Regions from separate parts of the Homo sapiens genome. Here all the other regions are linked to region 1. The links come from fine-mapping of genetic effects on gene expression. A gene starts in region 1. Each other region holds a variant in brackets. All regions are shown on one strand. Distances are between the middles of the regions.

Region 1 (4,506 bases):
TCTCATTAGTTATGGAAAATGCTAGTTAAAATCACAGTTAAATGCTATTTCATACCTGCCAGACTGACAAAAAATGTAATTTTACAAGACTAAGCTGTGGCAAGCATGTAGAGCAACAAGAATGCTCATCCACTGCTGGAGGGAGTGCAAACTGGTTTAACACTTTGGAAAGTTTAGAAATGACCCAATAAAATTGAATACACATAAATCTTATAACTCCGCAATTCTACTCCCAGCTATATACTCTAGGGAAGCTCCCACACAAGTGTACTTGAATATTAGAGGACATGGGCAGGCTTTAAAGTGGCCCCGATAATCCCTGCCTCCAGGTGTTCATGTCCTTGTGTCACCCCCTTCCCTTCAGTGTGAGTTGGGCCTAGGGACTCACTTCTAATGAATATAAAATGGCAAAAATAATGGGATGTCGCTTCTGAGGTTACAGAAAGAATCTGACTTCTGTCTTTCTCTTTTTCTCTGTGGGAGCCTTCTCTCTGGGGGGAGTAAGCTGCCATGTTGCAACCATTCTTTATACAGAGGCCCATGTGGCAAAGAACTGATGTGTACAGCCAGGGTCAGTGAGGCCAATCGGCCTGCCAGCAGTCATGTGAGTAAGCCTGGGAGAGGTCCTCGACCCTACGCCTAGCCTTGAGATGACTGAGGCCCAGTCAATACCTTGATTGTTGATACAGCTTGTGAGAGACCCTGAGTCAGAGACTCCCAGCTAAGCCCCTCCTGGATTCCTGATCACAGAAACTGTAAGATAGGAGGTAACAGGACTTGTTTTGTTTGTTCGCTTTGGTTTGAAGCTGCTAGGTGTTGGGGTAATTTGTTACATAGCTTATAGATAAATCATACACCTCCAAAAGTAGAAACAATCCAATGTCCATCAGCAGTAGAATGGATAAATTATGTACATTTACACCTTAAATGACGAAAACGAAAATGGAAGGAAGCATGAAAGATGAATCTATAAAACTTAAGAATACGTACAGGATAATGTCATTAATATAATGTCATTATAATGAGAAAGCCAATACATATGTTTTAGGAATACACACACAAATATGGTAAAACTAAAAAGAAAAGCAAGGGATTCATTAAATTAAGACAAAAATCACGAAAGATGTCACATCTCAGAGAATGGAGGAGAATGGACCATGGGCATCAGTTGGGACTCATGGGCTTCTAAGGTACTGTGACGCCCTATTTCTTGACCCAAGGAGATGGTCAGGCATTCGTTTCATTATTTTTTAGACCATTCTGAGATATTTCATTTACTTTTTATTCAACATTTTAAAACAAAGTATTGAAACCAATTCATCAACAAATCACTAGTTTGGAGGATGAAAGTGATGGACCGATGGTTGGCTGGTCAGCTAGACAGACACATTCTGTCCTTTACGTCTAGTTCGAGCTGTACTTCTTCTAAATTTCCATGATTATCCAATTGGCAAAGATCTTTTTCTCCTGTACTTAAGGCCTTCTTCCGTTGCAGGTTGGGCCAAACTAGCGGCCAGCTCTCGGCTGTTTACCAGGGAACTGTATCACCCAGCACTTGCTGCTTCAGGCCAAATGCATTCCAGACTAACATTCAGCCTGAATCCCCGCGCCGCTCTCACCGCCACCCCTCCCCAGGTCCCTTCCCCCACCACAAACCCACACTGCGCCCGTGGGCGCCTAGAGCACTGGGGTGGATGAGAACTTCCACCTGGGCTTAACGGAGACAAGCTAGCCTAGAAGAATGCAAGCCCCCAGCTGGCGAGATCAAATCGCCTCGAGGGTTCCTGCTAGCTCAGATCTTAATGGCTCCTTGCGGAGCAAAAAACAAATCCTACGAAAATAGGGGGGGTCATCGCCTCCTGCCCAGCAGAGGGCATAACAATGCGGCGAGAATGAAATAGGCACCGAGCTGCAGAGAAAAATCATCAACGGGGTAGAGACGAAGGAAGGGATCCTCGGTGGAACGGCTCTATCACCTGGGGGCGCGCGCAGAGGCCGCAATCCACGCCCGGCCCTCCCCAGACGCTAAACGTCGCACCCCGCCCACCGCTCCCCGCCCCGGACACTAACCCGGGGCCCAGGCCTCGGTCACCGCGGGCCTCTCCTGGTCCAGAGTCTACGCTGAACCCCACTCACTGTTTGCCCCGCTGTTCCCTGCAGCGCGGGTTCGGGGCAGTAGCAACCTGCTAGGAGCGGGAGGCGGTTGTTCCCAGGAGGAAGCAGCTTCTCCGCCCAGGAGGCAAAGGGCAGCGGGCTCGAAACTACAGGACTTGGAAAGTCTTAGGCGGAGACTGCGGGGGTGGGGGGTGGTGAGGAGGGGCCTTCCAGGGAGCTGATTGGTCGACGCGGACGGGGGCGGGACTTGGCCGGCGCCGTCCCTCCCCTAGACCTCAGAGGCCCTGCCCGCAGATGTGGCGCCAAATCCCGGATGCAGGCCTAGGCGCCAGCCCAGGAATATAGGGAGCAAATTGTTAAGAACAAAACAAAACAAAACAAAAGTGAGAATACTTCTGAACAAGTGACGGCCTTGATAAATAGCGAGAGATGTTTATATAAAATAATACAGGACTATTTTTAAGGACGAGTGAAATCTATCGGTTCTAGCTATAGTTTTTAATTAAAAAAGCAAGTTGTATTAAAATGGAGAGTAGGATCTCTCTTTCCCCCTCCCCTCCCCTCCCCTCCCCTCCCCTCCCCTCCCCTCCCCTCCAGGGGGAGGGTCTGCTTCTGCCACCCAGGCTGGAGTGCAGTGGTGCCATCACAGCTCACTGCAGCTTCAACCTCCCAGGCTCAAGCGATCCTTCCACCTCAGAGGCTGGGACCACAAGTGCGCCGCCACCACGCCCAGCTAACTTTTTGATTTTTTGTTAGAGACAGGGTTTTACTTTGTTGCCCAGGCTGGTCTCGAACGCCAGGGCTCAAGTGATCCTCCCGCCTCGGCCTCCCAAAGTGCTGGGATCACAGGCCTGAGCCACTGCATCAGCTTTAGCATTACATTCGTGTATGAAGAAGACATGCTGCATGTGCTTCTATAAGAGGCGGGGCTAACGGTGGAGAAATTGTCTATTGATTCTTACCTTCACAACCACTGAATTGTTTTTTTTTAAACCAATACATTGTTTTTATAAGTTTAATAAAACAGTAAGGCGTTGAGAATGTTACTAACCAATCAACAGATGACAGATATTGGGCATGAGGGAGGAAAGAAAGAAAGGAGTAGCAGGGAAAAAGCCTGGACTTTGAAGCCACCACATCCTCTGCTTACAAGTTGGGCAGTGTATTCATTGCTAAGGCTGCTGTGATAAATTTTCACACATTTAGTGGCTTAAAACAACACAGATTTACTACTATCTTCCAGGACTGTAGGTCCTGGAAGTCCAGCACAGGTCTCACTGGGCTATCATCCAGGTGTAGGCAGGGATGTGTTTCTCTTTGCAGGATCTAGGGACAAATCTATTTTCCTTGCTTTTTCCAGCTTCCAGAGGCTCCCGCATTCCCTGGCTTGCAGCCCTTTCCTTCATCTTCAAAGTCAGCAATCTCATGGCTCCAGCCTCTGCTTCTGTGTCACATCTCCTTCTTTGAGTCTCCTGCTTCCTTCTTTCACTTAGAAGGACCTTGTGATTACATTGTGCCTATCCAGATAATCTAGATAATTTCCCATCTCAAGGTCAGCTAATTAGCAGCCTTCATTCTGTCTGCAACCTTAATTCTCCCTTGCCATGTAGCATTGCGTATCACAAATTCTGGGAATTAGGATCTGGACATCTGTATTAATCCATTTTCACACTGCAGATAAAGACATTCCCCAGACTGGGCAATTTACAAAAGAAAGAGGTTTAATTGGACTCACAGTTTCACGTGGTTGGGGAGGCCTCACAATCATGGCAGAAGGCAAGGAGAAGCAAGTCACATCTTATGTGGATGGCGGCAGGCAAAGAGACAGCTTGTTCAGGGAAACTGCCGTTTTTAAAACCATCGGATCTCCTGCGACCTCTCCACTATCATGAGAACGGTTGGGGAAAGACCCACCCCCATGATTCAATCATCTCCCACCAGATCCCTCCCATAACACGTGGGAATTATGGGAGCTGCAAGATGAGATTTGGGTGGGGGCACATAGCCAAACCATATCAACATCTTTAGGGAGCTATTTTTCTGCCTATCACAGAGGGCTTGTTAACTTCTATCTTAGTGTTTTCATCTGTAACATTGGGGATAATAATTGTCTCTACTTCATGGAATTTTTATGAAGATTAAATGACTTAATACAGATAAAGCTCTTAAAGCAGTGTCTGGCACATGGAAAACCCTATGTGAATGTTCACCATTACCAGAGAATGGACAGATCCTTCCAGACTTCTTCCATGATTTCCTTGGCCCTTGTCTCCTTTGCTCTTCAAATCTCCAAGTTGTGTGTTCTCTCCTCATTTCCCTGCAAATCTAGTCTCCCCTCAAAACTACATAGGCCTAGCCTGAGATTGGAGGGCAGACATGGATGGGACTTTA
Region 2 (4,506 bases), 170 kb before region 1:
TCTCCAGTAGCCCCCATTTAAGTGAAGGACCTAGAACTTAAAATCAGGACGTAATGACAAGCCCCAGGCTTTCGCATTGCCATACCCTCTCTTAGTTTTTTGTGCCTTTCACTAATTTTCTGAAGAGTGAATGTGAGACAGTCCCAGTCAATGAGGTAACTTTGTATTGCATTCATTTCCATATCCTTAGATAGCCAGTCTGGGGGTATACGGGACCACTGACCACAATGGTAGGTTGCCCCTAAACTGTAAGTTTAAGCCCTAATTCTGTCCTAGTCTGCTACCTACTCACTGTGGAGCCCCGAATATCAGTTCTCAATAGCTCTAGAGAGACCAAGTCTGAGACTTGGCCTCAGGATAAACAGGCACCTTCTGACTCCTCTTCCTGCTAGAGGGCTTCTCCCCAGCATCCGTGCCACTGCTGCCTTAGCTCAGGCCTCGTTAGTCTTCCCTCAGTGTATTCCAGTAGCCTTCTAAGTTGTCCCAGCATCTTGCCTCAATCCTCTATGATCCATCTTCCTTACACTCCTTCCAAAATAATGTTAATACTCTGTCTATCAAATGCTTACAGTGTTCTCTAGCACATATAGGGTAAAGTCAAAGCTCATTAGCAGGGCATAGGAGGCCCTTCATGACCAGCCTCACCAGCACCTCTAGCTACATCTCCTACTGCTCTCACCTCCACATTTACCCTTCGGCATGCCAACCTGCTTATGGTTACGGACACAGCTTGCTGTTTTGGCTTCTGTGCCTCCCCTTGTTTGCTTCCTGCTGCTGAATCATGCTGGAACATCTTGTCCATTAGCTGTCAAGTCACCTGTCCAAATTCAGCTCTGTTGGCCCTTTCTCTCCTGGACATCGCCTCCTTGATAAACCAACAGTTTTAGCAATGTGTTTATTTACGTGTGTTTCTCCCTTTGGCCAGTGTTCTCTAGAAGGACAAGAGCTCTTAATGATGTTTGCCTAGCACAGTAGCTGGCGGTGTGTGGGTGTCTAATACATGTTAAACGTTTAATAAATGCTTAATTTATTGATGCATTGATTAATAAGTGTCAAAGAGCAAGCCAGTGAGAACAGATGAGCAATAATAAGGATACAACAGTGAGACTCTGAGGTAGGCTTGGCTTCGGTGGTGTTATCTGTCTTTGGGCTTTTATGAGCTACAGTCAGAGAATGCTCATCTATTAAAGGGAGAGTGGGGATGTGAAACCCCAGATCCCCGCTAACTGGAAATTTGTATAATCTTAGTAAACAAGGGCCTTCTGCCAAGGGCTTTCCGGAGAGCTGCCCCTTATGAAGTATGAGCCACTCTCATTAGCTGCCCCTTATGAAGTATGAGCCACTCTCATTTTTAGCCCCTCGAGACAGGCTGGATTTTTTTCTTTTTCTGCCCTAAATGCAGTGTTCTACAGAGCAATTTTGTATCATTGCAGATAGCCACAGGTCCAAGATGGCTATTAAAAAATAAGGATTATTATGATGTCTGGAAAGTATAGTATTGGAGGTTCGCAGCTTTTAGAATCTCAATAGGCCAGATATGTAGGAAGTGAGGGTTTCTCATCTCAGTCAGGCCCAAACCTGTCCTGATGCTGAGGAAAACACTTGAGATCTGGGAAGACAATTGTTTAAAGATACTAATAGTGGACATTTATTGAGTATTTACCTCTATTCAGACATTAGGTTTCCCCTGAGCACCCCCACTAGATTCAGGGGGTGTTGTTTTGTGGCCAAGAGGAGGAATGAGCCAACAAGATTGCATTATTGTGCAGGGGCAGAGTGGGGAGATAGGGGCACATACCCAGGATGAAGGTAACGATTGAGGGGAGGTGATCATGTGAATGAAATATATTTAAGAACGCACATGTCACGTCACTTTTGCAAACTTGACACCTCATTCTGTTCCTTCTTTCCCTTTTCAGCTCCAAGAGGCCTTCGGGTGGGAGCCATTCACCCAGCTCTTTGCTGAGTACCAGACCCTCTCTCACCTCCCCAAAGACAACACTGGCAGGATGAATCTATGGGTGAAGAAGTTCTCTGAAAAAGTGAAGAAGAATCTGGTTCCCTTCTTTGAGGCCTGGGGCTGGCCTATCCAGAAGGAGGTGGCTGACAGCCTGGCCTCCCTACCAGAGTGGCAGGAAAACCCCATGCAAGTGTACCTCCGTGCCAGGAAGTAAAGGATGCCCCACAAGGCGGGAGAGAAAAGGCAGGGTCACGCCATCAACTCCACCATGGGGCTTTGGCCGTGTGCTCAGTATCTGGAGCCTGAATCCCGCTTCCAAGCCTGACCACTAGATGGTGGCCACGGTCATAAGAAAAAATGGAACCCCTTTCTGTAAAAGGTGCCTTGTGCTTCTTTTTATTGTTTTTCTGCCTACGCTATTGCTTTCCCCAAGAGACTCACTTCACCTCTTAGTCTTCCAGAGAGGATCTTTCATCCTGCCATCCTGAGGCTTCTATTTTTGACCAATAGCTCTAAAGACCACGGGTTCCCATAACAACCTGATATCCCTTTCTCATCCCTGCCATCCCTGAATAAGGCTTCTAATTTATTATGCTTTAACAAGTTTTCAAATAGCAAGCGAGACACGCTGGAATAGTGGAGAGAGCCCCAAACCAGCTTTGGTTCTATGGAAAATCACTCCACCTCTCTGTGTTTCTGTCTTCACATCCATGACATGAGGATACAAATCTTTTCCTCACAAAGCTGTTGTTTGATTTCTCCTGGTCCCATAGTGGACTGTTAACGGTGTCCAGTCTAGCGTGCACATCCTGGGTGCTGAATCTCACTTCA[G/T]TGTTGACCCCCTTGGGGTTAGCATTCAGTCCTTGTATATTTAGAGAATGTCAATGTTTTCCCAGACATGGTATCAATAATGGTAGTTGTCAGCAGTATCTTAGCCCTTTCTACATTTTTTCTCCCACTTCTGGAAGGATTCTTGGGTATAACCTAACCCAAAGAAAAGTGGCATGTGCTGAAACTGAGTGTCACAGAGCTGTGAGGTTGGGTCTTTGGGATTAGCTTCATTTTCCAGGGTTTGCCCTTTGCCCTTCAACCAAAGGACAAAGTCATGTTAACAGCTGCTACTAAGTCTATATGCCCATTCGTTCATACCACAAAACAGGCATCTGACTCCTCTGGTCACCATGGAATCAAGGCACTGTCAAGTGGTGGGGGGTCCACAGGCACAGTGGGCTTCACTCTGGAACAGGATTACTGGGTGCAGCGGATGTAATCCTCACTTAATCAACCCACACCCCAGCATCCCCTGAGCTTTCTCTTAATCTCATTCTAGCCCATCTTGACTCTTCGGTTAGAGGGAGTTCTCATTGGAGATTTGTCTCTGGGATTAATGAGTGTATGCCTAGCTACTTTCTCCAGTTTACTTTTAGACCATATTGTTGTTTGTTTTGAATATCATTCCTTAGGCTATGTTGAGAGTAGAGTGGCTTCCCATTAGGAGAACTAATTTAGGGCATGTCTTTTGCTGAATCCCGTCAGCATATTTAACAAATTCCCAATTCTAGATAATTTCCTTTTATTTCTCTAGTACCCTTTGCCAGGGGCTCTACACATCAAAGGTGTTCATGAAGTATTTGTCAAAGGAAAGAACAGTAATGACACCTAACACATAATGAGTGATTAGTATGTTCCAGGCATTGCGTGAGCTATTTACTGTGAGTGATTTAATGTTATCTTCCCAGCAGACCTCTGAGGTAGGTACTAGTATGATCCCCATTTCGTACATGAGGAAACTGACACTAAGGGACATAAAATAAGTTTTTTGAAGTCACAAAGTGAATAAAAGGAAGAACCAGGGTTTAATTGAAGCCCATAGCAATGAAAACATTGTGGAACTTATTCTTCATGAATGGTTTACAATTTAAACAAAATGTCACCTAGAAAATAGATGAAAATATGTTCAACCAGGTCTGGATTTTTCCAATGTTTACTACTGAATTTTCATTCAATAACAAGTTTAACTTCCAAAAAGGTGTTGGTATCTGATTTTCTGCCTGCCTCAGAATGTGATTTGTCTGCCTTTGGGTCATCCAGCCTTGGGTAGAGAAGGAATTTGAACTCAGGAAATTCAACTCCAGAACTGATGTTCTTTTTTTTTTTTCATTTAAGTTCTGGGATACATGTGCAGAACGTGCAGGTTTGTTACATAGGTATACATGTGCCATGGTGGTTTGCTGCACCTATCAATCCATCATCTAGATTTTAAGCTCTGCATGCATTAGATATTTGTCCTAATGCTCTCCCTCCCATTGCCCCCAACCTCCCGACAGGCCCCAGTGTGATGTTTCCCTCCCTGTGTCCATTTGTTCTCATTTTTCATCTCCCACTTATGAGTGAGAACATGTGTTGTTTGGTTTTCTGTTCCTGTGTTAGTTTGCTGAGAATTATGGCTTCCAGCTTCATCCATGTCCCTGCAAAGGACATGAACTCATTCTTTTTCATGGCTGCATGGTATTCAATGGTATATATGCCATATTTTCTTTATCCAG
Region 3 (4,506 bases), 150 kb before region 1:
GAAAGCCTCTTCTCCTCCAAAGGATCACAACTCCTCGCCAGCAAGGGAACAAAACTGCATGGAGAATGAGTGATGAATTGGCAGAAGTAGGCTTCAGAAGGTAGGTAAAACAAACCTCTCTGAGCTAAAGGTGCATGTTATAACCCAATGCAAGGAAGCTAAGAACCTTGAAAACACATTACAGGAATTGCCAACTAGAATAACCAGTTTAGAGAAGAACATAAATGACCTGATGGAGCTGAAAAACACAACACGATGACTTTGTGAAGCATACACAAGTATCAATAGCTGAATCAATCAAATGGAAGAAAGGATATCAGAGATTGAAGATCAACTTAATGAAATAAAGCATGAAGACAAGATTAGAGAAAAAAGAATGAAAAGGAATGAACAAAGCCTCCAAGAAATATGGGACTACATGAAAAGACCAAACCTACGTTTGATTGGTATACCTGAAAGTGACCAGGAGAATGGAACCAAGTTGGAAAACACACTTCAGGATATTATCCAGGAGAACTTCCCCAACCTAGCAAGACAGACCAACATTCAAATTCAGGAAATACAGAGAACACCACAAAGATACTCCTTGAGAAGAAAAACCCCAAGACAAATAATCATCAGATTCACCAAGGCTGAAATGAAGGAAAAACTGTTCAGGACAGCCAGAGAGAAAGGTCAGGTTATTCACAAAGGGAAACCCATCAGACTAACAGCAGACTTGGCAGGACCCTACAAGCAAGAAGAGAGTGGGGACCAATATTCCACATTCTTTTCTTTTTTTTTTCTTTTTTATTTTCTAGACCACTGAGAAAATCTTTGTTTACACTAAATTTCAACAAAATTTACATAAATACATTCCAAATGTACAATTTTCACCTCTGATTTTTTCACGTCATTTAAAAGGTTAGTCTGTCCTGTTCCTGTTTTTCCTTTCAGACACCAGTGTGGCACTGACGTTGGCAGGTGGAGGGGAGCTCCCAGGGAGCTGGGGGGTGCCTGAGGGCTCAGGCTGCTTGGGGCAGACTTCTGTCTGGGCCGCCAGCTTTTCAGCTGCATCCCTGCCCTCACATTCTTAAAGAAAAGAATTTTCAACCCAAAATTTCATATCCAGCCAAACTAAACTTCATAAGTGAAAGAGAAGTAAAATCCTTCACAGACAAGCAAATGCTCAGTGATTTTGTCACCACCAGGCCGGTGTTACAAAAGCTCCTGAAGGAAGCACTAAATGTGGAAAGGAACAACTGGTACCAGCCACTGCAAAAATGTACCAAATTGTAAAGACCATCAACACTATGAAGAAACTGCATCAACTAATAGGCAAAGTAACCAACTAACATCATAATGACACGATCAAATTCACACATAACAATATTAACCTTAAATGTAAACAAGCTAAATGTCCCAATTAAAAGACAGACTGGCAAATTGGATAAAGAGTCCAGACCCATCGGTGTGCTGTATTCAGGAGACCCATCTCATGTGCAAAGACACACACAGGCTCAAAATGAAGGGATGGGAGAAGATTTACCAAGAAAATAGAAAGCAAAAAAAAAAAAAAAAAAAAAAAAAAATCAGGGGTTGCAATTCTAGTCTCTGATAGAACAGACTGTAAACCAACAAAGATCAAAAAAGACAAATAAGGCATTACAAAATGGTAGAAGGATCAATGCAACAAGAAGAGCTATCTATGCTAGATATACATGCATCCAATACAGGAGCACCCAGATTCATAAAGCAAGTTCTTAGAGACCTACAAAGAGACTTAGACTCCCACACAATAATAGTGGGAGACTTTAACACCCTACTGTTGATGCTAAACAGATCAACAAGACAGAAAATTAACAATGATATTCTGGACTTGAACTCAGCTCTGGACCAAGTGGACCTAATAGACATCTACAGAACTCTGCATGCCAAATCAGCAGAATATACATTCTTCTCAGCACCACATCACACTTATTCTAAAATTGACCATATAATTGGAAGTAAAACACTCCTCAGCAAATGCAAAAGAAGGGAAATCATAACAAACAGTCTCTCAGACCACAGTGCAATCAAATTAGAACTCAGGATTAAGAAACTGACTCAAAACTGCACAACTGTATGGAAACTGAACAACATCCTCCTGAATGACTACTGAGTAAATAATAAAATTAAAACAGAAATAAATAAGTTCTTTGAAACCAATGAGAACAAAGACACAACGTACCAGAATCTCTGGGACACAGCTAAAGCAGTGTTTCGAGGGAAATTTATAGCAATAAAAGCCCACAGGAGAAAGTGGGAAAGATCTAAAACTGACACCCTAACATCACAATTCAAAGAACTAGAGAAGCAGGAGCAAACAAATTCAAAAGCTAGCAGAAGACAAGAAATAACTAAGATCAGAGCAGAACTGAAGGAGATAGAGATA[C/T]GAAAAACCCTTTTAAAAAAATGAATCCAGGAGCTGTTTTTTTGCTTGTTTGTTTTTTGAAAAGATGAACAAAATAGACTGCTAGCTGGACTAATAAAGAAGAAAAGAGAGAAGAATCAAATAGACACAATAAAAATGATAAAGGGGATATCACTACTGATGCCACACAAATGCAAACTACCATCAGAGAATAGTATAAACACCTCTACGCAAATAAACTAGAAAATCTAGAAGAAATGGATACATTATCGGACACATACACCCTGCCAAGACTAAACCAGGAAGAACTCGATTCCCTGGATAGACCAATAACAAGTTCTGAAATTGAGGCAGTAATTAATAGCCTAGCAACCAAAAAAAACCCAGGACCAGATGGATTCACAGCTGAATTCTACCAGAGGTACAAAGAGGAGCTGATACCATTCCTTCAGAAACTATTCCAATCAATAGAAAAAGAGGACTCCTCCCTAACTCATTTTATGAGGCCAGCATCATCCTGATACCAAAACCTGGCAGAGACACAACAAAAAAAGAAAATTTCAGGCCAATATCCCTGATGAACATCGATGCAAAAATCCTCAATAAAATACTGGCAAACAGAATCCAGCAGCACATCAAAAAGCTTATCCACCACCATCAAGTTGGCTTTATCCCTGGGATGCAAGGCAGGTTCAACATATGCAAATCAATAAACGTAATCCGTAACATAAGCACAGCCAATGACAAAACCCACACAGTTATCTCAATAGATGCAAAAAAGGCCTTTGACAAAATTCAACAGCCTTTCATGCTAAAAACTCTCAATAAACTAGGTATTGATGGAACACATCTTAAAATAATAAGAGCTATCTGTGACAAACCCACAGCCAGTAATGTCCTAGGCCTTCATATTCACTCACCACTCACTCACTCACTAACTCGCCCAGGCAACTTCCAGTCCTGCAAGCTCCATTTATTGTAAGTTCCCTATACAGGTGTACCATCTTAAAAATCTTTTATATTTTCTACTGTACATTTCATGTATTTAGATATACTTAGTTACATAAATACCACAGTTGGTGACTATTACAAATTGTTACCATAAACATAACACTTACTGTGTTACAATTGCCTATAGTATTCACTACACTAATATGCTGCACAGGTTTGTCCCGTAGGAGCTATGAGCTCTTCCATATAGCCAAGGTGTATAGTGGCTACTATATATACCACCTAGGTTTCTGTAAGTACACTCTACGACATTTGCACAATGACAAATTCACTTGACAGCACATTTCTCAGAACATATCATTTAACGCATCGTTAAACAACACATGACTGTATAATGTTAGCTTTTTGTAGATGCTTTTTATCAAGTGGATAAAGTTTCCTCTATTCCTGCTTTATAGAGAGATTTTATCATGAATGGATATTGAAATGTGTTAAATTTGTTAAATGTTTATTATGCATCAACTGATGCAACGTAACTTTTCTTTTGTTTGTTAACATGGTGGATTATTTTGATTGACTTTTTGAGACTTAATCAGGCTTGTATTTCTGGAAACAACCCCCCTTGGACATGGGGTACATTTTTTTAATATACTGTAGAACTCTATTTGTTAATATTAAGTTATACATATCTTTACATATACACACACACACCCACTCTCTCTCCTGGTTTTGGTATCAGTGTAATAATAGCTTCAAAAAATAAATTGGGGAGTGTTCTCTCCTTTTCTGTTTTCTGGAAAAGATTGTGTAGAATTGGTGTTTTTTTTTTTAAACATGGTAGAATTCTCCAGTGAAACCATCTAAACCTAGAGATTCCTTTTCTGGTAGTTTTAAAATTATGAATTCAATTTTCTTAATGGTTATAGAGTTATTCAAATGATCTATTCATGCGTGGTGAGTTGAGTTTGCTTGTGTTGCAGGAGGAACACTGCATTTTGTCCATTTTGTCTAAGTTGTCTAATTTATGTGTGTGGAGTGGTTTGTAATATTCCTTGATTGTCCTTTGTTATATGTGGTGTCTGTAGTGATATCACCTGTTTCATTATGGTATTTAAAATTTATGCCTTTTCTTTTCCTTTTAATTTCTGTTTGAGTTTGCTAAA
Region 4 (4,506 bases), 56 kb before region 1:
GTTAGGTACATATATTAGGTGAGGTTTTGACCTTGGGTGAGGACATTGCTTTAAGCACTAAATAGATCAGATTAATCCCGTGAAGAGGAGATAGGAAGTGTTTCTGATAAATACTGCTTTGAAGATTGGCTGCAAGGCCAATACTCATCAGAGAGCTCCAGTTGACTATGGGAGTTAGACAACAGAGGAAAGTAAACTCATGACATATTTCAATTTCTCTTTACAGAAATTCAGACTCAGTGGTGTGGCAGAAGATAAAATAATTTGGGTTATTTCTGTGATAACATGGGCAATCTGGAAACTACTCCCATTTGTGAGGGTAAATCTCTATTATGATACATGGAAAATAGGACAGATGCTAATTCAGGTAAGAAAAGGTCTTTGTATTATACAAATATTTACCTTCAGACAGAAATGTTAATGAAGATGGAGAAGGAACAGTTACCAAGAAACTAGGGATAGTAGGACACAAAAAACCTGGTAACCTGGTAGTGAGTATGAACCAGTCTGGTGCCTTGCCTCCAGAGGAGCAGCAACTGAGCAGAGCTACTGGACAACCAGCCCTGCACTTCCCTAGAGCACAGACCAGCTCACTATGCAGCCACCAAGAGATAAGCACCGAAGGAGAACCTACCAGCCATGGATCCTCAGAAAACAGACCAGCTAAGTGCCCAGCCTTCAGGGGACAAGCAGCTGAGTGGGCATACCAGCCACACAAACTTCTGCAGCCAAGGCCACTGAGGTACTTGCAGGCACCACTGACATTAACTACAGCTAAAGAAGCTGCATGGAGACTACACTACTGCATCCACCCAGAACAAAAACAAATGTACCTTACCCAACCAACATGCTAGGACACATCTGCAGGTGTAAGTCTTTTCCGCTGAAAGTTATGCTACCAAGTTAGAAAAGGTGATTATTCCATCAGATGCACAGATGCCAGTGCAGGGATACAAGAAACATAAAAAAGCAAGGGAACATGACACCACCAAAGAAACACAATAATTCTCTAGTAACTGACCCCAATAAAAAAATAAAAATTTATGAATTGCCTGAAAAGGAATTCAAGATAGTGAGCCTAAGGAAACTTGGTGAGACATGAAAGAACACAAACGGATCATTCAACAATCGGGAAAAACAGTTCATGATCTGAATGAGAAATTCAACAAAGAGAGAGATATCATAAAAAAGAACAAAATAGAAATCTTGGGGCCAAGAAATTCAATGAATGAAATAAAAAAACGCAATTGAGAGCTTCAACAGCAAAATAGATCAAACAGAAGAATTTTTGAACTTGAAAACAGGCCTTTTGAAATAGTCCAGTCAGAGGTAAAGAAAAAAAAAAAGGAATGAAGAAGCCTATGGCATTTATGGGACACCATAAGTGAACAAATGTTTGCATTTTGGCAACTTAAGAAGAAGAGATGAAGAAAGGCAAAGAAAGCTTATTTAACAAAGTAATAGTTGAAAACTTCCCAAGTCTTGGGGAGATATGGACATCCAGATCCATGAAGTTCAAAGGATCCCACAAAGATTCAACTCAAAGAGGTCCTCTCTGAGGCATATAACCAAACTGTCAAAAGTCAAAGACAAAGAAAAAAATACTAAAAGCAGCATGAGAAAAACATCAAGTCACATATAAGGGAATTGCCATTGGACTATTAGCAGATTTCCCAGCAGCAACCTTGCAGGCCAGGAGAGAATGGGATGATATATTTAAAATACTAGAAGAAAAAAAGCTGCTAGCCTAGAATACTATACCAGCAAATCTTTGCTTCAGAAATGAAGGAGAAATAGTCTTTCCCAGATCAGCAAAAGTTGAGGGAACTCATTACCACTGGACCAGACTTACAAGAAATGCTTGAGTATTTCTATTGGAAAAAAAAGTTTTCATGATAATTGCTACCATAAAAAAACATGAAGTATAAATCTCACTGCTGGAGATAAATGCATTATCAAATTCATAATGCTTCATTACTGCAATGGTGATATGTAATGTTTCAAACCTCTAGTATGAAGGTTAAAGGCCAAAACAGCTGGGTGCTGTGGCATGTGCTTGTAGTCCCAGTTATTTAGGAGGCTGAAATGGAAGGCTCATTTGAGCCCAGGGGTTTGAGTCCAA[C/CATA]CTGGGCAACATAATGAGACCCCATTTAAAAAATAATAATAATTAAAAAAATGCAGCTCTGTGGGATGCCAAAAAGTGAAAATTGTAATAATGATTATAGCAATGATAAGTTGTTAAGGAATAAACAATATATAAAGATGTATATTAAAGCAACAAAATTATAAATTTGGGTGCAGAATGAAAGTCTAGAGTATTGGTATGCAATGAAAGTTAACTTGTTATCAGCTTAAAATAGTCTATTATAAGTATGAGAGATTTTTAATGTAACCCCAATACTAATCACAAAGAAAAAATTACAACAGATATACAAATGAGAAAGAGAAAGGAATCAAAGCTTAACACAACAAATACCCTAATCAAGCCACAGAGATAAACATGAGAGAGGAAGAAAGGAACAAAGGATAAACAAAACAACCAGAAAATAATGAACAAAATGGCAGAAGTCCTTACCTATCAATAATAACTTTGAATGTAAATGAAATAAATTCCCAATTAAAACATACGCCGTGGCTGAATGGATTAAATTAAAAAAAAAAAAAAACAAGATTCAGCAACATGCTGCCTACCAGATAGGCACTTCACCTATAAGGCCACACATAGACTGAAGTGAAAGAAGAGAAAATGAAATTCTGTGAAAATGGAAACCAAAACAAAGCAGGGGTAGTAATACTTACATCAGACAAAATAGACTTTAAGTAAAAAACTGTCAAAAGAGAAAAGAAGGTCATTATATAAAGAAAGATAAAGAAATCAGTTCAGCAGAAGGTTAGGACAGTTGTCAGTATATGAGCACACAACACCAGAACACCCAATATATAAAGTAAATATATAAAGCAAATATTATGAGATCTAAAGGGAGAGAAAAATTAAAATAAAATAAAAAAGGACTTTAGCACCCTCTTTCAGCAATGGATGGATCATCTAGATAGAAAATCAACAAAGAATTATCAGATTTAAATTACATTCTAGACCAAATAGCCCCAGCAGATATTTATAAAACATTCCCCTCAATAACTACTGAATGTACATTTTGCTCAACAGCACATGGAACTTTTCTCCACGATAGAATATATGTTAGTCCACAAAACATATCTCAAGCAATCAAAAAAATCAAAATCTTATCAAGTATCTTCTCTTACCACAATGCAATAAAAACTAGAAATGAATACCAAGAGGAACTATGGAACATATACGAATATGTGAAAACTAAAAACAAGTTTTTACAAAACCAGGGCATCAATAAAGAAATTAAAAAGAAAATTTAAAAATTCCTTGAGACAAATAAAAGGAAACATAATGTACCAAGACCTATGGGATACAGCAAAAGCTATTCTAAGAGGGAGTTTATAGCAATAGATGCCTACATCAAAAAAGTATAAGAATCTTTTATAAAAACTTTATGTGGCACCTCAAGGAATGAGAAAAACGAGGGCCAGCTGAACCCTAAACTACTAGAAGAGAAGACTGATAAAGATCAAGCAGAAATAAGTGAAATAGAGCCTGAAAATAATATAAAAATCAGTAGAACAAAAAGTTGGTCCTTTGAAAGATAAACAAATGTTTTAGCTAGACTAACAAAAAAGAGAAGACTCAAATAAATATAATCAGAGCTAAAAAAGGAGATGTCACAGAAATACAAAGGATCATAGAAGACTTTTATGAGCAATTATATGCCAATAAACTGGAAAACCTAAAAGAAATAAATAAATTCCTGGACACATGCAACCTACCAAAGTTGAACTACTATGAAGAAATAAAATACCTACACAGGCCAATAATGTGTAACAAGAATGAATCAGTAATAATAAGTCTCCCGTCAAAGAAAAGCCCAGGAACTGATGACTTTACTGCTAAGTTCTACCAAACATGTAAATAATAATATCACTTCTTTTCAAACTATTCTAAAAAGTTGAAGAGGTGCAAATTCTTCCACACTCATTCTATGAGGCCAACATTATCAAAACCAGACAAGGATAACTTGATAAAAAGAAAACTACAGGCCAATCTCCTTTATCAACATAGATGCAAAAATCTTTAACAAAATATAAGTGAAACAAATTCAACAGCATATTGAAAAAATAATTCACCACAATCAAGTGAGATTCATCCCAGGGATGCAAGGATGGTTTAACATATGTAAATCACAAATGTGATACATCACATTAACAGAATGAAGGACAAAAATGACATAATCATTTTAATAGACAAAGAAAAAAATTTGATAAAATTTAACATCCCTTCATGATAAAAATTCTCAGCAAATGAGATGTAGAAGTAATATACCTCAACACAATAAAGGCCATAAATGAGAAGCTCATAGATAACATCATACTGAAGAAGTTGAAAGCTATTCCTCTATGATCTGCAATAAGACAAGGATGCCG
Region 5 (4,506 bases), 120 kb before region 1:
ACCTGACCTTCTGTATGTCAATCCATAAGTTTTAGAAAGTAAAACTGGCTATATTTTAGGTGATAAGAGCAATATAATTCTCATTCACTCTGTGGTCTTCACAAAATTCTAAGGGTATAGTTCTAAATTTTCAATTAGTATTTCAGAAAGTGATTTCTATTTACATGTATATCTATAGATACGTTTTGATTTTCTTTTAAGGAAAAGTTGAGATTGGGTAGAAAACAAGGTAGAGGAACACTGTTGGACCCACGGAAAGGGGACTTTTCTGAGACTTTCTCTGTTGGTTTTTAGAGCAATTTTCCATGGAAACAGTAGAGTTACCTTTGCCATGCCAAATGAAGATTTAGCGAATCTTACTTGGCTATGTAACAACAACAACAACAACAACACTCAATCATAAAATGAACAATTTGATTTTTAAGATGTTCAAAATATTTTATTAGACATTCTACCAAAGAAGATATGCAGATGGCAAATAAACACAGGCAGAAATACTCAATATCATTTGTGGGAAAAGCTGTCTTCTTTATATTTTCCCATATTTAATTTTTTTCTACTATTAGTAATATTGTATATTACTTCTATCAGAAAAAAATAATTTTAGAATTAGTATGTTCAATTTTATAATCATGCTTGTATTTTTTTAAATCATGAAGAGCAAACATTGCTGAGAAAATGACACCTATTCTTATGGATGATGGTTTTTTTTTCATTTTTTCACATTTTCAACTTTCATTTAGTGAACATATGTCACTTTTTATCCTAAAAAATTTTTTAAAATCAATTTTACAAGCATGGGATAGGAAAACTCTGTCTTGTTAATAAATGAAGTGAAAAATCTCTGTACCTTTAGTTGTTCATAAGTTGAAAATGAGTAACGTGATATATCTTTAAACACAAACTTCCATGTTAGCTACATTAGTAATGCTTCTTTCCCAGGAACTAATAATCCCCAAGCATATTCCCTTTTCATATCATCTCTGAAATAATCCATGCTATTCTGGGCACCATTTCAACAAGCATGTTGACCAGTTCAAGCTCACCCAGAGGAAAAGACCCAAGGCGAATATTCAGGAAAGAATGTGATATCAGAAACTCTAAGGCATCAAAGTCTGAGGAAAAATATGAAGATATTCTCTAAATACTTTCGAGGCTGGCATTTAAAAGAAAGAGAATGTCTTCTCTGAATTATCAGAAAACGGACTTCTATCAATTGTTAAGAATATCGTTGCCAAATATACATTCAAGAACCAGGAGAATGACAACCATATGGGTTCAGGGAACTGTTTGACCTATTTTGAGGCAAACTGGACAGGATCCAATTTGTTTCTTGAGTCTCAGGAGCCCTTTCTCTGATAGGGGGAAGCAGTGGTAATTGGTCATCCTCGGGAAATAGTATTTCCTCAGAGGCAGCATCCAGTAGTTCCTGAAAGTCTGGGGCATTTTTTCACAGCTATTTAAACCAAGTAAGTAGTACTAGAACCCTTTGGCGAAGGCTTGGAAGAAGGTTCATGTACCTCATTTGTGGTTATTATAGCAGTATTTATCCCTGAAGTAACCTAGTCTCCTTCATTGGAGGGATCTGGGTCTAATGGAACCATTTCTGGGAATTAGGTAAAGGACCATAATTCTGTCGTTGTGGCTCAACAGACCTCTGTTCATTGGGACTCGTATGTGTTCTAAAAATATAGCAAGGCTGTAATGGTATGCCTATTTTTTTTTTTTTTTTTGAGATGGAGTTTCACTCTATCACCCAGGCTGGAGTGCAGTGGCACAATCTCAGCTCACTGCAACCTCTGCCTCCCAGGTTCAAGCGATTCTCCTGCCTCAGCCTACTGAGTAGTTGGGACTACAGGCATGTGCCACCATGCCCAGCTAATTTTTGTATTTTTAGTAGAGATGGGGTTTCACCATGTTTGCCTGGCTGGTCTTGAACTCCTGATCTCAGGTGATTTGCCCACCCTGGCCTCCCAAAGTGCTGGTATTACAGGCATGAGCCACCGCACCCAGCCTATTTCATTTTTTTAAGACCCAGAATTGTGGTGTGTTTTTGGCACATGGAGTTAAATGGAATCAAATACATAGAAAACACATAATATTTCTGAGAGAATTATATTGGCAAAAGTGTCAGCAGCCTGGTCTTAAAAAAGCTGAGGCTGCACATGTATACATATGTAACAAACCTGCACGTTGTGCACATGTACCCTAAAACTTAAAGTATAATAATAATTTTAAAAAATTACTGGCTGACTCTCTTTTTGGACTCAGCCCACCTGCATCCAGGTGAAATAAACAGCTTTATTGCTCACACAAAGCCTGTTTGGTGGTCTCTTCACATGGACGCGCATGAAATTTGGTGCCGTGACTTGGATCGGGGGACCTCCCTTGGGAGATCAATCCCCTGTCCTCCTGTTCTTTGCTCCGTGAGAAAGATCCACCTACGACCTCAGGTCCTCAGACCGACCAGCCCAAGGAACATCTCACCAATTTTAAATCAGGTAAGCGGCCTCTTCTTACTCTCTTTCTCCAACCTCTCTCACTGTCCCTCAACCACTTTCTCCTTTCCACTCTTCATTCTCTCCCTTCTCTTAATTTCAATTCCTTTCATTTTCTGGGAGAGACAAAGGAGACACATTTTACCAGTGGGCCCAAAACTCCGGCGCCAGTCACAGACTGGGAAGGCAGCCTTCCCTTGGTGTTTAATCATTGCAGGGAAGCCTCTCTGATTATT[G/C]ACCCACGTTTCAAAGGTGTCAGACCACGAAGGGATGCCTGCCTTGGTCCTTCACCCTTAGCGGCAAGTCCCGCTTTTCTGGGGAAGGGGCAAGTACCCCAACCCCTTCTCTCCTTGTCTCTACCCCTTTTCTGCTTTTCTGGGGGAGGGGCAAGTACCCCTCAACCCCTTCTCCTTCACCCTTAGCGGCAAGTCCCGCTTTTCTAGGGGGCAAGATCCCCCAATCCCTTATTTCCATGCCCCAACCTCGTATCTCTGCGCCCCAATCCCTTATTTCTGTGCCCCAACCTCTTATCTCTGTGCCCCAATCCCTTATTTCCATGCCCCGACCCCCCTTCCTGCTTTTCGGGAGGGTAAGAACCCCCAAACCCCTTCCCTCCGTGTCTCTACGCTCTCTTTTCTCTGGGTTTGCCTCCTTCACTATGGGCAACCTTCCACCCTCCATTCCTCCTTCTTCTCCCTTAGCCTGTGTTCTCAAAAACTTAAAACCTCTTCAACTCACACCTGACCTAAAACCTAAATGCCTTATTTTCTTCTGCAATGCCGCTTGACCCCAATACAAACTCGACAGTATTTGTCCAAATAGCCAGAAAATGGCACTTTGAATTTTTCCATCCTGCAAGATCTAAATAATTCTTGTCATAAAATAGGGAAATGGTCTGAGGTGCCTGACGTCCAGGCATTCTTTTACACATCAGTCCCTTCCTAGTCTCTGTGCCCAGTGCAACTTGTCCCAAATCTTCCTTCTTTCCCTCCCACCTGTCCCCTCAGTACCAACCCCAAGCGTCGCTGAGTCTTTCTAATCTTCCTTTTCTACAGACCCATCTGACCTCTCCCTTCCTCCCCAGGCTGCTCCTCTCCAGGCCGAGCTAGGTCCCAATTCTTCCTCAGCCTCTGCTCCTCCACCCTATAATCTTTTTATCACCTCCCCTCCTCACACCTGGTCCGGCTTACAGTTTCGTTCCGTGACTAGCCCTCCCCCACCTGCCCAGCAATTTACTCGTAAAAAGGTGGCTGGAGCCAAAGGCATAGTCAAGGTTAATGCTCCTTTTTCTTTATCCCAAATCAGAAGCGTTTAGGCTCTTTTTCATCGAATATAAAAATCCAGCCCAGTTCATGGCTCGTTTGGCAGCAACCCTGAGACGCTTTACAGCCCTAGACCCTAAAAGGTCAAAAGGCCGTCTTATTCTCAAAATACATTTTATTACCCAATCTGCTCCCGACATCAAATAAAACTCCAAAAATTAAATTCTGGCCCTCAAACCCCACAACAGGACTTAATTAACCTCACCTTCAAGGTGTACAATAACAGAAAAAAGTTGCAATTCCTTGCCTCCACTGTGAGACAAACCCCAGCCACATCTCCAGCACACAAGAACTTCCAAATGCCTGAACTGCAGCGGCCAGGCGTTCCTCCAGAACCTCCTCCCCCAGGAGCTTGCTACAAGTGCTGGAAATCTGGCCACTGGGCCAAGGAATGCCCACAGCCCGGGATTCCTCCTAAGCCGCGTCCCATCTGTGTGGGACCCCACTGAAAATCGGACTGTTCAACTCACCTGGCAGCCACTCCCAGAGCCCCTGGAACTCTGGCCCAAGGCTCTCTGACTGACTCCTTCCCAGATCTTCTCGGCTTAGCGGCTGAAGACTGACACTGCCCAATCGCCTCGGAAGCCCCCTAGACCATCAGGGACGCCGAGCTTCGGGTAACTCTCACAGTGGAAGGTAAGCCCGTCCCCTTCTTAATCAATACTGAGGCTACCCACTCCGCATTA
Region 6 (4,506 bases), 180 kb before region 1:
TGTAGATTATACATTTTACTTCTATTTTTGGAGCAGTTATCTTAAATTTTAAATTTAATGTTTGATTACCTGAGAAATATAATTGTACATTCTCCTTATTTGAAGAAACAAATTATTGAGGCAAAAGCCCTTTTCATCATCTCCTTCAATGTCAGTCCTTTCTCTCTATCTCACAATCCAAAAGAAAACACTCTTATCAGTTTATTGTGGTTGTTCCCTGACATTTTGGACATATATTGACGTATGTTTACTTTGCTTTATATTGTGTCTTCCATAAGTTGCATCACCAAGTTCTGCTATTTTTGAAATTGTTTTACTCAACAAATATATTTTGAACATCTTTCCTTGTTAATTAACATAGGTGGACCTATTCTTATTGACTGATAAATAGTAATCCATCATATGATTAAATGCCAATTTTTATTTGCATTCATATTAGTAAACATTTAACTTCTTCATATTTTTTCACTATTACCAACAATTTGCAATGAACTTCCTAGTACTGCCTCCATTTATACTACTATAGGCTGTTTCTCTTTTTAATGTTATTGGATACTGCCAAAATGATCTCCAGTTTTTATGAAAGATTAGTTTTCTCCACACTCTTGCCAACACTTAATATTGTCAGCTTTTGAAACATTTACTAATTTTCTGGGTAAAATATGTTATTATATATAATTTGCATTTGTGTGATTATATCTTTTCAAATGCTGAATATCTCACTTGGATTTCATCTTTCATGAACTGTTTGAGAATATACTTTAAAAATATTTTCTGTTTTTTGCTTTTCTGTTTATCCTTAGAAATTACTCATATATTCTGAATTCTAATTTTGTATCTGTTCAGTCTGTTACAAATATTTGTCTCTCAGTGACCTCACCTTCTTTAACTTTATTTATGCTGCCTTTATGCTAAGAAGTTGTTGGTTTTTTTCTTTAATTCTATGTGGTTCTTGCAGCTTTTGTCAACCATTCTAGTCACTTCCTAGATTCCCAATGCTACTGTAGTTTGTGTGTGTGGGCATGTGGATGAATATATGCAGTCATTTTAATTAGCTGTGGAGAGGATATCTGCAAGTAACTGCAGCTTTCCATATTGAAGTTTTACTACCATTAGCTGAGGCTTTGCCAGGTGCCTGTGAGAAGATGCTAAGAACACTTCGAGTGGAATTTTTCATTATTAAGTCTTGTAGCTCAATGTCATTAACTCCCCAAAATATCTTGAGTTCCAACAGGTAACAAAAAGCCACAGGCAGAACTGATACCTGAACTCTATGACATTTGCCATGTGAGTCTGAAAATGGGATGACAAAACTAAGACATGCCATCTCCTCATTTTCATGCTGAAAAGAAATTAAAGAGAATCTGCACAAGAGTTACATTTTTCAATAATGTGTTACTACTGGAATAAATAAACTATACTTTTTAAAAAATATAACATTTAATTTTTAATTATAAGAGAAATAGATGTTAATTTTAAAATTTGAGAGAATAAAGTTTTATAAAGATAATTAAAATGACCTAAAATCCCACCAGCCAAGACGACCACTGAAGACATTTTTTTTAAACAAAGATATTTTGATAAATATGCTTTAGGTTCTGCTTCTATGTCTGGTTTCTTGGTTTTTTATTTTTTTTACCCCAAAATTTGGCTTATTTAGAGCATGGTATCCTGGAATCTAATTTTAAAA[C/G]TTTTTCCATTAAGCATTTTTCAAATTACCTAATATTTATTTTAATCACTATATGGTTTGCAATCTATTGTTAACCATAATTTATTTAACCAACCTCCTATTGCTTGACATTTACAGTATATACAAATTGTTTTAAAAAAATTCTTGAAATACAAAGCCTTTTCTTGATTCATTACATTTTGACCATTCCTTAAGAAGAAGAAGTGAATACTCTAACCAGATCTAAGTGAAGTTTTAAAAACAGTGTGTGTTTGTATAAATCTTCAAGCGTAGTGTTAAACAATTTAATTGTGATGTGTTCCTAGATCAGAACTACCCTACGGAGAGTCCAGATTTGGTGTTTTTACAGCCTTCCTTTGCAGAAAGTTAGATCGAGAAATTCATAAGCAGTACCACATTCTCTGGGCATAATAAACTAGTTTTTCTAACTTGTTTATATGTTTAATTATTTTAAAAGTCAAGAAACTGAAGCCAAAATATTCAACACATAGTTGACTAAATGGGAGGAATTCCTGGAGGTGTTCATTTAGAAAATGTGGATTTTAAGATATGCAAGTAAGGGCACTACCTCTATAGCGTTTCCTCAAATCTATGACAAATTGATTGTGAGAAATGCCATTATTTTATGTATCACTAAGAAAGACCAGGCCGGGCATGGTGGCTTACACCTGTAGTCCCAGCACTTTGGGAGGCTGAGGCTGGCGGATCAAAAGGTCAAGAGATCCAGACCATCCTGGCCAGCATGGTGAAACCCCGTCTCTACTAAAAATACAAAAATTAGCTGGGTGTGGTGGCACGCACCTGTAGTCCCAGCTTCTCGGGAGGCTGAGGCAGTAGAATTGCTTGAACCCGGTAGGTGGAGGTTGCAGTGAGCCGAGATTGTGCCACTGCACTCTAGCCTGGCGACAGAGCGAAACTCCATCTCAAATAAAAAAAGAAAGAAAGAAAGAAAAGAAAGAAAGAAAGACTAAACGTTGCCAATTAAATGATAATATGCCATCAGTTGTAAAAACAGTGAAAAAATATGCCTTAAACATGATAAAAATAAATGATATTAGCATGCTAAAATCCTAACATTAGTAAGAATGTGAAGATTGACATGAACCGTGCAATCTTCTTACCTGCACATAGATTTCTCTACTCAATGAGTTCGATTCAGTGGCTCATTAACTGACTGTAGCCTCATTGTTTCTCCTGTCTCTTCCAGGTATGGGGAGGATGTCAGGCAGGACCAGCAGCAGCTCCTGGAGGGGATCTCAGAGCTGGACATCAGGACAGGGGGAGTCCCCTCACAGCTGCTTGTACATGGAGCCCTGGCCTTCCCTCTGGGGCTGGATGCCTCACTCAACTGCTTCCTGGCGGCTGCTCACTATGGCCGGGGCCGGGTGGTCCTGGCTGCCCACGAGTGCCTGCTCTGTGCTCCCAAGATGGGGCCCTTCTTGCTCAATGCGGTGCGCTGGCTGGCCAGAGGCCAGACAGGCAAAGTTGGGGTGAACACAAATCTAAAAGATCTGTGTCCTCTCCTATCGGAGCATGGCCTGCAATGCAGCCTGGAGCCCCATCTGAACAGCGACTTGTGTGTCTACTGCTGCAAGGCGTACAGTGACAAGGAGGCTAAGCAGCTGCAGGAGTTTGTGGCTGAGGGTGGGGGGCTGCTGATTGGGGGCCAGGCCTGGTGGTGGGCCTCCCAGAACCCTGGCCACTGCCCCTTGGCTGGCTTCCCTGGTAACATCATCCTCAACTGCTTTGGCCTCAGCATCCTGCCTCAGACTCTCAAAGCAGGCTGCTTCCCCGTTCCCACCCCTGAGATGAGAAGCTACCACTTCCGCAAGGCGCTCTCTCAATTCCAGGCTATACTGAACCACGAGAATGGGAACTTGGAAAAGAGCTGTCTGGCAAAGTTGAGAGTTGATGGTGCAGCCTTCCTACAGATTCCTGCGGAGGGGGTCCCTGCTTACATATCCCTGCACAGGCTCCTGAGGAAGATGCTACGAGGGTCTGGCCTCCCAGCTGTGAGCCGGGAAAATCCAGTTGCCAGTGACTCCTATGAGGCTGCGGTGCTCTCCCTGGCCACTGGGCTGGCTCACTCTGGAACTGACTGCTCCCAGCTGGCCCAGGGGCTTGGCACCTGGACCTGCTCCTCCAGTTTGTACCCCTCAAAACACCCCATCACCGTGGAGATCAATGGAATCAACCCAGGTATGAAAACAGGAGAGAGTGCCCAGAACATTAAAGATGTAGGGGAAAGTGGGATTGGCTGACACTACACAGGACATTGCAGGTACTTACCCTCAGGAAGATTGACCCCATTCTTTTTTTTTTTGAGACAGAGTCTCACTCTGTCATCCAGGTTGGAATGCAGTGGCGCGATCTCAGCTCATGCAACCTCCACCTCCTGGGTTTAAGCAATTCTTCTCTCTCAGCCTCCTGTGTTGCTGGGACTACAGGCACACGCCACCATGCCTGGCTAATTTTTGTATTTTTAGTAGAGAGGGAGTTTCACCGTAAAGGTAAGGCTGGTCCGGAACTCCTGACCTCAGGTGATCCACCTGCCTCGGCCTCCCAAAGTGCTGGGATTACAGTCGTGAGCCACTGGGCCCAGCTGACTCCATTCTTCATCAGGTACTTTCAAGAAGATGGGGATTGGGACACTGCTTAAGGTTTAGAGGGGATGAGCCTAAGAAGTATGGATGACTTGAGATACACAGGGGAGAAGCTGTACCACTGGGAGGGGCTGGGAGGCCCCAAGTGGAGATATACTCACATAGGAAGGAAGAACTGAGCCTTCTCTGTGACTTTTGTCAGGCAACAATGAT
Region 7 (4,506 bases), 530 kb before region 1:
ACTATATTGCCCAGGCTGATCTTGAACTCCTGGCCTCAAGCAATCTTCCTGCCACAGGATCCCAAAGTCCTTGAATTACAGGTGTGAGCCATCGCACCTGGCCAAAAAAGCCAGCATTTAAACTCAGCTCCTCAGAGGGAAAATCTATTCTGGATGTTGTAGAAAGTGCTTTATTTGTTCACTTAAAAAAACTAAAGTTACTCAACTCAGGACATTTGAATGGATACACGTTCTTTCACGCTTGTCTTTTTTTAATTAAGGTGGGACCATAAACTGAAGAGAGGAATACATCTATCTACATTTCTAAATTTTGAAATGGGAAAGCAATGATCTTTCTTCAGAGTGATTTGTAGCAATAAGTCTTTGGTGCTTTCATAAAATACTGATGATAAGTGTCTTAGTCCCTACTTATCAATGTCCTTGTATGGTGTTAGAGTATCTATCTTCAGGCAGCCCTGAAGATCAGTCAGCTTTGGGGCACTCCTAGTGGTTCTCAAATACCCTATTTGCTAAAGGCCAGAAGTGAGAGTGCTGATGCTGGAAAACATTGGTAAGAATAGTCTTGGGGACTAGGTGGAAATCACGAGGGTCAGTAACAAAGGTCTGTATTCTTTTTTTTTTTTTTTTGAGACAGAGTCTCACTCTATCACCCAGGCTGGAGTGCAGTGGTGAGATCTCGGCTCACTACAACCTCCACCTCCCAAGTTCAAGCAATTCTACTGCCTTAGTCTCTAGAGTAGCTGGGACTACAGGCACCCGCCACCATGACTGGCTAATTTTTGTATTTTTAGTACAGATGGGGTTTCACCATGTTGACCAGGCTGGTGTCGAACTCCTGACCTCAGGCGATCTGCCCGCCTTGGCCTCCCAAAGTACTGGGATTACAGGTGTGAGCCAATGCACCTAGCCTGAGGTCTGTTTTCTTTAAAATGAGAATGATTTCCTAAATATTCAGTCAACAGGAGGACCAAGAGTGGGGTTTAGGGGCATTAGGTTGCTGACAAGGGACCCCATTCATACACAGGGGCAGACTCAGAGGCAAGTCATGGATGAGTGCAGATGTTTGTAGTGTGTAAGTTGTATTCCCACATAGTAGGAAGTGGCCATAGAATCTGTCCTAGTGGTCGATATAGTTCTCCCCCGACCCCTACCTGCCATCCCCAGCTGGTTTCCCAGAGTAATCAACAGATGAGGGTCCTGGCCATTGTGCTGGGGCACAGCAAGTTTGCTGAGGAAGGATGGCTCAGCCAGTTAGTTATAGAGGATGAGAGGGTCCATGGCAGAAGTTCTGTGGTTTCAGCGTTGGTGGTGGGGACAAAAAGCCCTCACATTACCAATCTCTGATCTGTTGGACACTATGAAAGAGACCAGCACAGGACATGCTCATTTGACTTTTAGACAAGGTTTGAAATCTTGTAAAATATTGGGGATCTAAGGTGAGCTCACTCCCACTTTTAGTTAGAAAAGAAAGCTTATCTCTGGGCACGGTGGCCCACACCTGTAATTTCAGTACTCTGGGAGACCAAGGCGGGCAGATCATGAGGTCAGGAGTTTGAGACCAGCCTGACCAATATGGTGAAACTCCGTCTCTACTAAAAATACAAAAATTATCCGAGCATGGTGGTGTACACCTGTAATCCCAGCTACTCAGGAGGCTGAGGCAGGAGAATCGCTTGAACCCGGGAGGTGGAGGTTGCAGTGA[G/C]CCAATATCACGCCACTATACTCTAGCCTGGGTAACAGAGCAAGACTCCATCTCAAAAAGAAAGAAAGAAAGAAAGCTTATCGGCATGGGCAAACGTGGCAGGCACATTCTCCTTAGTGTAGTCCCCAGGCGCACACCTCCATGAGCCAAAGCCCTCCTGCATGGGCAGGTCAACGTCCCCAAATCACGTTCTGTAGGATTCAGCAGAAGAGAATGCCCAGACAACTGCTTCTTTGGTGACTGTCATAGAGCCTATGCTTCAGATGACCAAGGGGATGCATTTGCCCTGTGTTTTCTTTGGGAAGCACATTTGTGGGAAAGCCTGCAACCCCTACTGCAGATTTAGGGGTTCCATCCAAACATTCTGATAAGAAAGGCCAAGCCAGCAGATCGCGCCTGCATATCTGCCAGAGAGCCTGGAAGAATGTCAGCGCTTTCCTGCTGCTTCCTGGTCAGGTCCCAAGCACACACAGCACCTCAGGGTGTCCTCACCATGACCAGGCCACAAGCAGCAGCGACCAGGCAGGATGCCAGGACCAAGGAGGCAGGGCATAGAGTCTGGGCAACCATGAGTCAGAGGCCAGGTGGGTAGTAAAAAATGGAGTTCATAAATCCCAGAGAGAAGAACCAGATGGGATTTTTAAAGGTCAAGCCAATCCCAGAGCACTGACAAAGAGAGGGAAAGATCAAATAAAGAATACAAGGCAGTTGTTTGTTCCAGCCTCAGTAGGCCTATCTGCCAGTTTTATATTCCTTCCTCCATGGAGAACCAATGAGAACCAGGAACTGGAAGGCTTGTCCTGATTGTCTCCGATGCCTGCCTGTCTAGTATTTATGAACTCAGGGGAGAGGGGCAACAGATGTCATATCACACCTCTGAAGCCTCCCTGTCTCCCCTGCTGGGACCCTTTAGCCCTCACCTGTATGCACATTCCTCTAGGAGAGAGCTCCTGCCTTGTGCTTACAAGCCATCCTCCCCAGCTTCTGCCTCTGAACCACAGCCTGATGGTTGAGGCTCTATTACTACCTGTCAGACTTCTCTATCACCAGGCACAGCTGACAGCCTACCTCTCAGATTCCTGGATATATTTTCCTTCTGAGTTCCCCAGTTCTTTTCCTTTGCTAGCTTTTGGGATATCCTGCAACTTCAGCTTGGATTCCTCTTACAAACACTTGTTTGGACGGAGATCTGTTTCACCTACAAAGTCTAACTACCTGAAACCTTTTATCCTTTCCTGCAACTGATCCTGTTCCTAAATAATGTGTTTAATACATAGTGGGTAGATGTAGCTCCAGTTGGCTATGTCTTTATTTAAGTGAGCCAATCAAGTCCAGAGAAAAAACAGTGAAGGCATTTTCCCGACAGTGAAAGAGTGGTGGATATATAGGGCATTAGTTACAGATGACTGAGTGTTAAAACTGGTTGAATACTTAGAAATCAAGTTCCTTGCTGTACTTCCACAGACAAGGAAAATTCACCTCTCAGATTTTTACAGTCACACACTTAGTAAGTGGCTGAGTTAGTAAGTGGCTGAACTGTAACCAAAATTCAGGTCCTCTAATTCTTAGTCTAACATTCTTTTCCCTATCCTAAGATGCACCCCTAAAGCTATGTTACATTATTTTTCTATGACTTTTATTATAACATTAAGCCCTGTTGAAATAAGCTCAGGCCTCATAATCTTTTTGCTTATGGAGACTGTTCAACTTCTTGCAGATAAAACAGGTTAAAAAAATGTTTTGGCCGGGCGCGGTGGCTCACGCCTGTAATCCCAGCACTTTGGGAGGCCGAGGAGGGTGAATCACCTGAGGTCAGGAGTTCGAGACCTGCCTGGCCAACACGGTGAAACCCCGTCTCTACTAAAAATACAAAAATTACCCGGACATGGTGGTGGGCACCTGTAGTCCTAGCTACTCGGGAGGCTGAGGCAGGAGAATTGCTTGAACCCAGGAGGTGGAGGTTGCAGTGAGCTGAGATCGCACCACTGCACTACAGCCTGGGCGACAGAGCGAGAATCCGTCTCAAAAAAAAAAAAAAAGTTTTAAGCGAGTAGATCTCCTCATAAGCATTCTTACCAACCACAATAAAATTAAAAGAAAAAAAAAGACCATTGTTCTTTCTAACTTAGGAGTTCAGAGCTCATTTAAGAATGGGTACTTAATCCTAGTGTATAGGTTCAGACCACCGTTTGGTTAAGGTTTTGTGATGGTGATAAGCTAATAGGGACAAGGCATTGCTCTCCTGGGTGGGGGTCCACTTGAAAGCTGTTCACTCACTGAATCAATCAATCACAATTATCCTGCCAGGGCACCCACACAGGCAGGAAGGTCCAAAGGACACTGGAAATTTTGAACGCCAGGTGCTGGGTGTTTCTCTCTTTAACTTAAAGAAGAATTTCCTTTCCAACCTCTTTGTTCATGTATATGCATGAGGTGGCTAGTGGTAGTCAAGCCTGAATTTTATTACTGATGGTGGAAAACTGTGTTGGGGGCAGGGCCAAGGAATGCAAGCAATGTCTTCCTTCTAAGGTGGGAGCTGGAATTTGCCCCTTGATCTTTCTCTTCCTGGAGCTCTAGTTTCTCTCACAGCCAAAATTTTTGAAAGAGCTGCCGGCACTCATCTTCTCCATTTCCTTACTTCTCTGCACTCCTCAACTTACCCAATCTGGCATCTTCACTCTACTGAAGCAGCTCACACGGGGGGCTCCCCTGTCAGAGGCAATTGAACCAGAGCAACTCCATCTTGAATAGGAGCTGGGTAAAACAAGGCTAAGACCTGCTGGGCTGTGTTCCCAGACGGTTAT

Direction of the effects. Alleles are on the strand shown, and positions count from the first base shown. SD is a standard deviation of normalised expression in the study named. Not every link is listed here.
In carriers of allele C in region 4, the expression in tibial artery of the gene that starts at base 2,286 in region 1 tends to be higher than with CATA alone (small effect, 0.30 SD a copy in GTEx).

What was found. PIP is the estimated chance that this variant, and not a neighbour inherited with it, causes the effect.
Region 2: its variant is fine-mapped to the expression of TCAF1 in whole blood (TOPMed, PIP above 0.99). The same link has a PIP of 0.9 or more in blood mononuclear cells.
Region 3: its variant is fine-mapped to the expression of TCAF1 in skeletal muscle (FUSION, PIP 0.95).
Region 4: its variant is fine-mapped to the expression of TCAF1 in tibial artery (GTEx, PIP 0.95).
Region 5: its variant is fine-mapped to the expression of TCAF1 in whole blood (INTERVAL, PIP above 0.99).
Region 6: its variant is fine-mapped to the expression of TCAF1 in whole blood (INTERVAL, PIP above 0.99).
Region 7: its variant is fine-mapped to the expression of TCAF1 in whole blood (TOPMed, PIP 0.97).

Annotation. Positions count from the first base shown.
Region 1 is chr7:143,899,891-143,904,396 of GRCh38, forward strand. TCAF1 (TRPM8 channel associated factor 1) reads right to left here and starts at 2,286. Exons shown (of 9, transcript NM_014719.3): 1 at 2,071-2,286. It overlaps LOC105375549 (a long non-coding RNA gene), which reads left to right. Exons shown (of 3, transcript XR_007060574.1): 3 at 1-2,063. RefSeq lists enhancers at 1,254-1,791, 1,467-1,516 and a silencer at 2,307-2,446.
Region 2 is chr7:143,725,494-143,729,999 of GRCh38, forward strand. TCAF2 (TRPM8 channel associated factor 2) reads left to right here. Exons shown (of 8, transcript NM_001363538.2): 8 at 1,920-4,506. The coding sequence ends at 2,174. Among named protein-coding and RNA genes, the nearest start is that of CTAGE6, 30 kb to the right of the region's middle. The variant G/T (reference allele first, on the strand shown) is at 2,792.
Region 3 is chr7:143,749,485-143,753,990 of GRCh38, forward strand. No RefSeq gene overlaps it. Among named protein-coding and RNA genes, the nearest start is that of CTAGE6, 6.0 kb to the right of the region's middle. The variant C/T (reference allele first, on the strand shown) is at 2,414.
Region 4 is chr7:143,844,136-143,848,641 of GRCh38, forward strand. LOC112267988 (a long non-coding RNA gene) reads left to right here. Exons shown (of 3, transcript XR_007060571.1): 2 at 227-367. Among named protein-coding and RNA genes, the nearest start is that of TCAF1, 56 kb to the right of the region's middle. The variant C/CATA (reference allele first, on the strand shown) is at 2,123.
Region 5 is chr7:143,784,600-143,789,105 of GRCh38, forward strand. No RefSeq gene overlaps it. Among named protein-coding and RNA genes, the nearest start is that of CTAGE6, 29 kb to the left of the region's middle. The variant G/C (reference allele first, on the strand shown) is at 2,735.
Region 6 is chr7:143,716,786-143,721,291 of GRCh38, forward strand. It overlaps TCAF2 (TRPM8 channel associated factor 2), which reads left to right. Exons shown (of 8, transcript NM_001363538.2): 3 at 2,898-3,889; 4 at 4,496-4,506. Among named protein-coding and RNA genes, the nearest start is that of CTAGE6, 39 kb to the right of the region's middle. The variant C/G (reference allele first, on the strand shown) is at 1,691.
Region 7 is chr7:143,365,949-143,370,454 of GRCh38, forward strand. It overlaps a transcript of FAM131B not described here. Among named protein-coding and RNA genes, the nearest start is that of FAM131B, 5.5 kb to the left of the region's middle. The variant G/C (reference allele first, on the strand shown) is at 1,703.